Homo sapiens: one gene and its partner. The protein of the gene in region 2 binds, or shares a complex with, the protein of the main gene of each other region. Each region holds a gene or a part of one and is shown on either strand. Other genes may lie near its edges.

Region 1 (4,321 bases), on a different chromosome or scaffold from region 2:
CCCTGCTCCCAGGGCAGCATCCTACGGAGGCCTCTGGCCCCACCCAAGCTCCCCACCACCCCCATGTGTCTGGAGCCACCAGACTGGTTTCTGGGCACAGGCCTCTTGCCATCACCCAACCCCGTGGATCGCCCTCTGTGGCTGGGTGCTGGGAGCCTCCCAGGGCTCATGCCTGATGCGGGGGAACCATGCAGGCTGCCAGGTAGCCTGGCCAGTGTGCGGCAGGGGTGTCAGGGAAGGCGTCCCAGGGGAGAGGCAATGTCCGGGAGACCCTCTGAATGGCAACAAACACCTGGATTTCCTTCAATGACCAGGATTCCCCTGCTAGGGTTGTCGGGAGAGGGTGGAATGAGGGTGGAGTCCGGCCAAGGAAGGGCCGGGACAGGACTGCGGACAGGAGCTGAGGAGGGCAGGAACCAGTGGCCCTGGGGGCTCCTGCCCTGTGTCCCGCAGGGAAGCAGACCCCACTTCTATCCACTCTGGCTCTTCCACTGTCCTACCCTGGTCTCAGCCCTCCAAAACCAAGACCCTCCACAACCCAGGCTTGGCCAAAGCACTTTCCTGGCCCCAGAGCACAGCCTCTGGAGCACCGGGAGCAGCCGCTCTGACCTCTGACTCCCCGCACCAGAGCAGACGGCAAAGGGGAGTGCTATGGCCTGTGGTCAAGGTCAAGCCCTGACAAGCCATCAGGAGCCAGAAGCCCAGGCCTCGGTGCTCTGGGCACCACCAGGCCAACCCTGTGCTCCCTGGGGCCAGCACACGGGTCAGGGAACACTTCTGAAGTCCTTTATTGGGCCGGCAAGGCCGGGAGCTGCCCTCGGAGTGGGGTCCCAGTCCGGAGTCTTCAGGTCAGTGGCAGCCCTGCCCGTTCTGGCCGGGGCAGGCGGCCCCTGCTGACTCGCTACTTGGTGCGCGCCTTCACATACTCCCAGCCCTCCTTGGAGTACTCGCGGGCCTTGGAGGGGGCCACCGACAGAGCTGACATCACCGTCATGATGCCTGTGGGAAAGGGACGGCCACTGGTGATACTCCCCTCCCAGCCTCACCCAGCCTCCAACCCCTGGGAAACTCTAGAGTTTGTTTTGGGCGGTGGGGGGTGGGTGGGGGGCGGGGATGGAGTCTCACTCTGTCTCCCAGGCTGGAGTGCAGTAGTGCAATCTCGGCTCACTGCAACCTTCGCCTCCTGGGTTCAAGCGATTCTCTTGCCTCAGCCTCCCAAGTAGCTGGGACTACAAGTGCGCCACCATACCAGGCTAATTTTTGTATTTTATTTTTTTGAGATGGAGTCTCGCCCTGTCGCCCAGGCTGGAGTGCAGTGGTGCAACCTCGGCTCACTGCAACCTCTGCCTCCTGGGTTCAAGCAATTCTCCTGCTTCAGCCTCTCAAGCAGCAGCTGGGATTACAGGTGTGCACCACCACGCACGGTTAATTTTTGTATTTTTAGTAGAGATGGGGTTTCACCATGTTGCCCAGGCTGGTCTCGAACTCCTGACTTCAGATGATCCGCCCACCTCAGCCTCCCAAAGTGCTGGGATTACAGGCGTGAGCCACTGTGCTCGGCCTCCTTTCCCTTTTAGATCCCTAAGAGACACGTGTCGGGCAGGAAGGAGGATGGACAGAAAGGAATGGCCAGGAAGTGGGGAGAGGGGCTAGACTGGGGTGTCTCCCTCCAAGCAAAGAAACTGGGTGCCTTACCTGCATTCCAGGAGTCACGGATGGGAAAGTAAATCTTTGGAGGGGCTGGGAGCTGGGAAAAAGAGATGGGCAGAAAGAACTGGTGAAAAGGCTCAGCAGCCCATCCCCAGAGGCGGAGGGAGGAGGACAGGCCGGAGAATCAGGTCAGCATCAATATGGAGGACAACATCGTGCAGGGCTGGAGGGACCTCCCAGAGCTGACCACCCGCCAAACCCTGGCCTCGTTCCCGGCCCGTAGTACCTGGGGTATCTGCAGGCCTGTCTGCTGACACACGTACTGGCTGAACTGGTACATGGCGGGGGGGACCACCTCCCCAGCCTTCTGTAGGGCTGCCTGGCTCTTGTCGCTGGGCCCCAGCAGCTCCTGGTCGTACACCAGGTAGACGGCGCCCCCAGCCACACTTCCCTTGATGAGGAACCTGCGGGCAGGGACGGGAGGAGCAGAAGCTCAGCGGACACTGACAGCCACCCTCAGGGGCCAAGGCCCACGGGGAGAGTGAGACCCTCCTGAGGGCTCACCGTCCACAGGGTGACACTCTGTAGTGCAGCACCGTCGACCCAGACCCCTATTATATACAGCACTCGTTTTACAACGTGCAAGGCAGGGCGGCTGGACGCCACTTGAACTGATGAACTGAAACCCAGAGGGGGAGAGTGGGTCACTCAAAGTCCCACAGTGAGCAGGGGCAGTGAAGACGTAAGATCTTGACCTTCTAGAAGCCTTCCAGCCCTGGAGAAACCAAGTGTCCCTGGGCGCCTCCTGCCCGCTGTCACTCGCAGCTCCGAGCACGCATTCACTTCTCATCCACGCCAGCGGCAGGATTCACCGGCATTCCCACCTCACAGAGAAGACAACTGAGGCTCGGAGGCGGAGGCTGACACCGCGAACTGAACGCCAAGGGCTCGCTGGGAAGCAGGAGGGAGGGGATTGGCGACCTCGGGAAGCCCCGCCCCTCTGAAGCCTCAGTTTCCCTATCTGGCCCATAGGCGGGGAACGAAGGGGAAGTGACTCTAAGGGAAGCGAAGAGCAGATCGGGACCAGACTGGAGACAGGGATGCCCACAAAAATGGACTTTTTCGGGGACTCGGGTCCCCTCCGGCGCCCCCACGCACCTCATCAGCGACCACACCCGGGCCACCATGGTCGCTCGGATCCACGCGCAAGGACACTCGGCTCGCCCGCCGCTTCCTGTCGCGGCGCCGCAGAGGCCTCTGGAAGGTGTAGTCTTTCTTGCCCGACGCAAGGTCCTCTGGGAGTCGTGGTGTCTTGCGGCTCTGAGACTCCAGAGAAGGGCTGCGGTCTCGCAGCGGAGGGCCGCTGGGAAATGGACGCTTTAAGGCCCGGGCCGCCGCAAGGCTGTCTGGGAAATGTAGTCAGCACGGCGCTGTTTGCACCTGGCCGCGGAGCCTCCTGGGAAATGTAGTTCGGCCCGGCCCTGGCACCGTGAGGGGAAAGAGGCGTCAGGTGCCTGGCTGAAGCCTGAAGGTGACCCGAAAACAAGTCAGAGCCCGAGAGATCCACCCGCGCCCGCGCGGGGGACCAAGGGCCCGGATTTAAGAAGAGTGTGCCTACAAGGCGGTTGTCACGGCAACGAGAGGGCGGGATTGTTCGAGCGCTGCGGCCCCCTCACGTGATCGATTCGGAGGCGGGGCGTCCGCCCAGTGGGCGGGGCCGGGCCCCTGCTGGGAGGCGAAGACCAGGCGGGCACTGTTGCCCGGCGACGCTCCGGCGCTGGGTCCCCGAGGCCCGGCCCCTCCCCGGGAGGAGGTGGGCTTCGAGTCACGTGACCCGTGCCCTACGGGAGGGGGTGCGGTCGGGGACCCGGCAGGAGGCGGCCGAGAAGAGAGGACCGTGGGGGCGTTCGCGTGGCTCCCAGCCCGGGACCCCACCCCCGCTGGACAGTGGGGGAAACTGAGGCCTGAGCGGGTGAGTGCACGGTTTAGGGGTGCGCAGAGGGTCACACGCCCGCTTTGTTCAGAGGGGAAGCTAAGGCCCGCCGAGGTCAAGAAGGGGCCGATGCGTTCTGCAGGGCTTCCCCCCATTTCTCCCGCATTTCGGCCGGGCTGCTTCAACCGTTCATCTGCCCATCCATCCATCTGTCCCCCACCCGTCTATCCATCTGGCCATCCACCCATCTATCCTTCCATCTATCCATCCACACTTCCGTTCATCCATCTGTCCGCCCATCCATTCATCCATCTGCTCCCCCCATCCTTCCACTCATCCATCTGTCCACCCATCCATCTATTTATCTGGCCACCCACTCATCTATCCGTCCATCCATCCATCCATCCATCCATCCATCCATGCATCCGTCCGTCCATCCATCCATCCATCCATCCATCCATTTATGTGTTCCCATTTATCCATTCATACATCCATCCACTCATCCATCTATCCACCCATACATCTCTCCGTCCATCATCCATCCATCCACCCATCCATCTATTCATCTGGCCATCCACCCATCCATCCTTCTATCTATGCATCCATACATGCATCTGTCCATCTATCCATTCATCCATCCACCCATCCGTCCACCCGTCAGTCCATCTGGTCCCACTTCCCCCTGCCGGGCTGCTGCAGTCAGTGTAGAGCTGGGGGTGGAAAGAGGGATGAGCAGAG
Region 2 (3,805 bases):
TGGGGTTTCACCATGTTGGCCAGGCTGGTCTTGAACTCCTGACCTCCAGTGATCCACCCGCCTCAGCCTCCCAAAGTGCTGGGATTACAGGCATGAGCCACCATGCCCAGCCTTGGATATAGTGTTTTCATTCTTGCCCAAACAATATGGCGGCTTGCAGCATCCAGCTGAAGGAAAATATCTTCTTTTCCTCCCTCCCTCCCTCCTTCTCCCTTCCCTGCCCTCCCCTCCCTCTCTCCCCTTCCCTCCTTCTCCCTCCCCTTCCCTCCTCCCTCCCCTTCCATCCCCTGCATCCCTCCCTCCCCTCCCTCCTTCTCCCTTCCCTTCCCTCCTTCTTCCTTCCCTTCTCGTCCCGTCCCTTTCTCTTCTCTTCTCTTCTCTTTTCTTTCTGAGAGATGATCTCACTCTGTCACCCAGGTTGTAGTGCAGTGGCATGATCAGGGCTCACTGCAGTCTTGACCTCCTCAGGCTCAAGCAATCCTCCCATCTCAGCCTCCTGAGTAGCTGCGACTATAGGCATGCACCACCACACCTGACTAATTTTTTTTTTTGTGGAGACCGGGTGTCACCATGTTGCCCAGGCTGGTCTCAAACTCCCGAGCTCAAGCAGTCTTCCTTCTTCAGCCTCCCAAAGCGCTAGGATTATAGGCATGAGCCACTGCGCCCAGCCTATCTTGTGTATCTTTGAAAATTTACTCTCATTCTTTTTCCTTCCTCAACGCATTAATTAGCAATTGAGTTATTTAAAAGGACCCTATGTGTCTCTTATATTTTCTTGATTATTTTATTTTGTTCCTTTTGAATTTTTTTTGCTTTGGTCATTTCCAAGAGCTCCTTCCTGTTCTTTGAATGTTCTTTTTTTCATAGAATTATTTTTTTCTTTTAATGTAGTGGCTTTTAAAATTTATTTGATGATACTTAGTAATAGGTTTAGTTTTGTTTTGAAGTTCTTCTGTTTCCTTTGTGCTTGTCTTGGTCTTTCTCCTTTATGTTTCAGGCTTTCCACAAATGACTGGTGATTCTTGGTTATCCAGTCATGTTTCAAAGTGAGGCAGCTGAAATGCTAATAAGAACTCTTTCACCTGTAATCCCAGCACTTTGGGAGGCTGAGGCAGGCGGATCACCTGAGGTCAGGAGTTCAAGACCAGCCTGGCCAACATGGGAAAACCCCATCTCTACTAAAAATACAAAAAATAGCCGGGTGTGGTGGAGGGTGTCTGTAATCCTAGCTACTCAGGAGGCTGAGGCTAGAGAATCACTTGAACCCAGGAGGCAGAGGTTGCAGTGAGCTGAGATCACGCCACTGCACTCCAACCTGAGCAACAGAGCAAGACTCCGTCTCGGGAAAAAAAAAAAAAAAAAAAAAAGAACTCCCTGTCTGTACATGGGGCCCACTGACGGGCAGGTTCTACCTCAGGGGAGCTGGGCAGGAAGTGACCATATACAAGGGTGCACCCAGGGCCAGTGTGAGGAGGGCTTTTCTCTCAGGCACTGACATACTCACCCCTTCCAGCTCTCTTGGTTCTCAGCAGGAAATCCATGGTGTTTCTTTAGTGATACCCTGCCCCCACTGTTTTAACTCTTTTTTTTTTTTTTTTTTTTTTGAGACAGGATCTTGCTTTATCACCCAATGTGTTAGGCCATTCTTGCATTGCTATAACCTAACACTGGGTAATTTATAAAGAAAAGAGGTTTAGTTGGCTCACAGTTCTGCAGGCTGTACAGGAAGCATGGCACCAGCATCTCCTCGGCTTCTGGTGAGGCCTTGGGCTGCTTGCAATCATGGTGGAAGGCAAAGGGGGAGCTGGTGTCTCACATGGCAAGAGTGCGAGCAAGAGAAAGAGGTGGGGGAGGTGTCACACATTTTTAAACAACCAGATCTCAAGAGAACTCACTGTTGCACAAGGACAGCACCAAGGGAATGGTGTTAAACCATCTGTGAGAAATCCACCTTCATGATCAGGTCACGTCCCACCAGGCCCCACCTCCAACATTGGGGATTACAATTTAACATGAGATTCAGAGAGAACAACATCCAAATTATCACCCAGGCTGGAGTGCAGTGGCATAGACACAGCTCACAGTAGCCTTGAACTCCTGGGCTCAAGCAATCCTCCAGCCTCAGCCTCCTGAGTAGCTAGGACCACAGGCACATGCCACCACACCTTACTAATTTTTTAATTTTTTGTAGAGATGTGGTCTCCCTAAGTTGCCCAGGCTGGTCTCAAACTCCTGGGCTCAATCAGTCCTCCCACCTCAGCCTCCCAAAGTGCTGGGATTACAGGTGTGAGCCACTGCATCAGGCTCATTTTTTTTTTTTTTTTAAAGGAATAGAGATGGGGGGCTGGGCGTACTGGCTCATGCCTGTGATCCCAGCACTTTGGGAGGCTGAGGCAGGTGGATTGCTTGAGCTCAGGAGTTCAAGACCAACCTGGGCAACATGAGGAAACCCCGTGTCTACAAAAACTACAGAAAAAAAAAAAATTAGCCAGGCATGATGGCTTGCACCTCTTGTCCCACCTACTTGAGGGGCTGAGGCAGGAAGATAGTTTGAACCTGGGAGGTCGAGGCTGCAGTGAGCCATGATTGTGCCACTGCACTCCAGCCTGGGAGACCGAGTGAGGCCCTCTCTCAACAGAAAAAAAAGAAATGGAGATGGAGTCTCGCTATGTTACTCCAGCTGGTCTCAATTCCTGGCCTCAAGCAATCCTTATGCCTCGACCTCCCCAAGTGCTAGGATTACAGGTGTGAGCCACCACACCCAGTAACCCTGGTTTACTGGGTTTTTTAACATTTTGAACTGGTGTGACTTCCTGGCCAGGGGTAGTTTTGTACTGGGATGGCATAGGGGAAGGAAAGGCCATGCTGGTCCATGCATCGGACTTGCGTTTGTCCTGTGCCCTTGTCTTGCTCCCTGGTTGCCATCTCCACTCCCCATGGTACCTGCCATCTCTGGATCTGGAATCTCCCTGGGGCTGCCTGGGACAGATCTGCTCCCTCTGAGGCTGCACTCCTCCTCAAGATTTCAAGATTTCAAGGCAGTGTGTCCTCTTATTTCCGTTCACTCTCCATTTTCTGAAAATTGATTGACACTTCCTTTCTGCCAGTGGCCCTTCCACACATTTTCTCTTCATTGTGGGTTTATTAATGTTTTTTCTTACTGTTTTTTTAACGGGGTTGCAGAAAGGGGAGAAGAAGAACGCTTGTGTTTAGTATTTATATAGGAAGCCAGATTGCTATAAAAGAACATAAACCCTAGAAACCAAAATACTCATTTGTTTATTTTTAAAATAATCTTTTTTTCTGCTCTCTTAGGGAAAAAAAGGTGTTCTTTTGAAAACACTTGGTGCTGAGTGAAAGAAGCCAGTCACAAAGGACCGTATATTTACTGCATGATTCCATTTATATGAAATACCCAGAGGGCCGGGCGCAGCGGCTTACACCTGTAATCCCAGCACTTTGGGAGGCCGTGGCGGGTGGATCACCTGAGGTCAGGAGTTCGAGACCAGCCTGGCCAGCATGGCGAAACCCCATGCCTACTAAAAATACAAAATTAGCCGGGCATGGTGGCGTGTGCCTGTAACCCCAGCTACTCGAGAGGCTGAGGCAAGAGAATTGCCTGAACCCGAGAGGCAGAGGTTGCAGTGAGCCAAGATTGCGCCATTGCACTCCAGCCTGGGTGACAAGAGCAAAACTCTGTCTCAAAAAAAAAAAAAAGAAATATCCAGAGTAGGCAAACACATAGAGATAGAAAGTAGATCAATGGTTGCCTAGGGCTGGACGGTACGGGGGAGTTGAGGAATGA

Evidence for each region.
Region 1: APOO (region 2) and MICOS13 share a complex: the UniProt entries of both Homo sapiens proteins name them as parts of the mitochondrial contact site and cristae organizing system (MICOS) complex.

What each region holds. Positions count from the first base shown.
Region 1 is NC_000019.10:5,677,650-5,681,970, forward strand, and holds MICOS13 (MICOS complex subunit MIC13 isoform 2 precursor), read right to left. Parts: upstream 2,868-4,321; 5' UTR 2,838-2,867; coding exon 2,809-2,837; intron 2,602-2,808; exon of another isoform or gene 2,501-2,601; coding exon of another isoform or gene 2,406-2,500; intron 2,115-2,405; coding exon 1,937-2,114; intron 1,748-1,936; coding exon 1,696-1,747; intron 1,582-1,695; coding exon of another isoform or gene 1,574-1,581; exon of another isoform or gene 1,249-1,573; intron 1,000-1,248; coding exon 902-999; 3' UTR 773-901; downstream 1-772. UniProt on the Homo sapiens protein: Component of the MICOS complex, a large protein complex of the mitochondrial inner membrane that plays crucial roles in the maintenance of crista junctions, inner membrane architecture, and formation of contact sites to the outer membrane.
Region 2 is NC_000023.11:23,859,359-23,863,163, reverse strand, and holds part of APOO (MICOS complex subunit MIC26 precursor), read left to right. Parts: intron 1-3,805. UniProt on the Homo sapiens protein: Component of the MICOS complex, a large protein complex of the mitochondrial inner membrane that plays crucial roles in the maintenance of crista junctions, inner membrane architecture, and formation of contact sites to the outer membrane.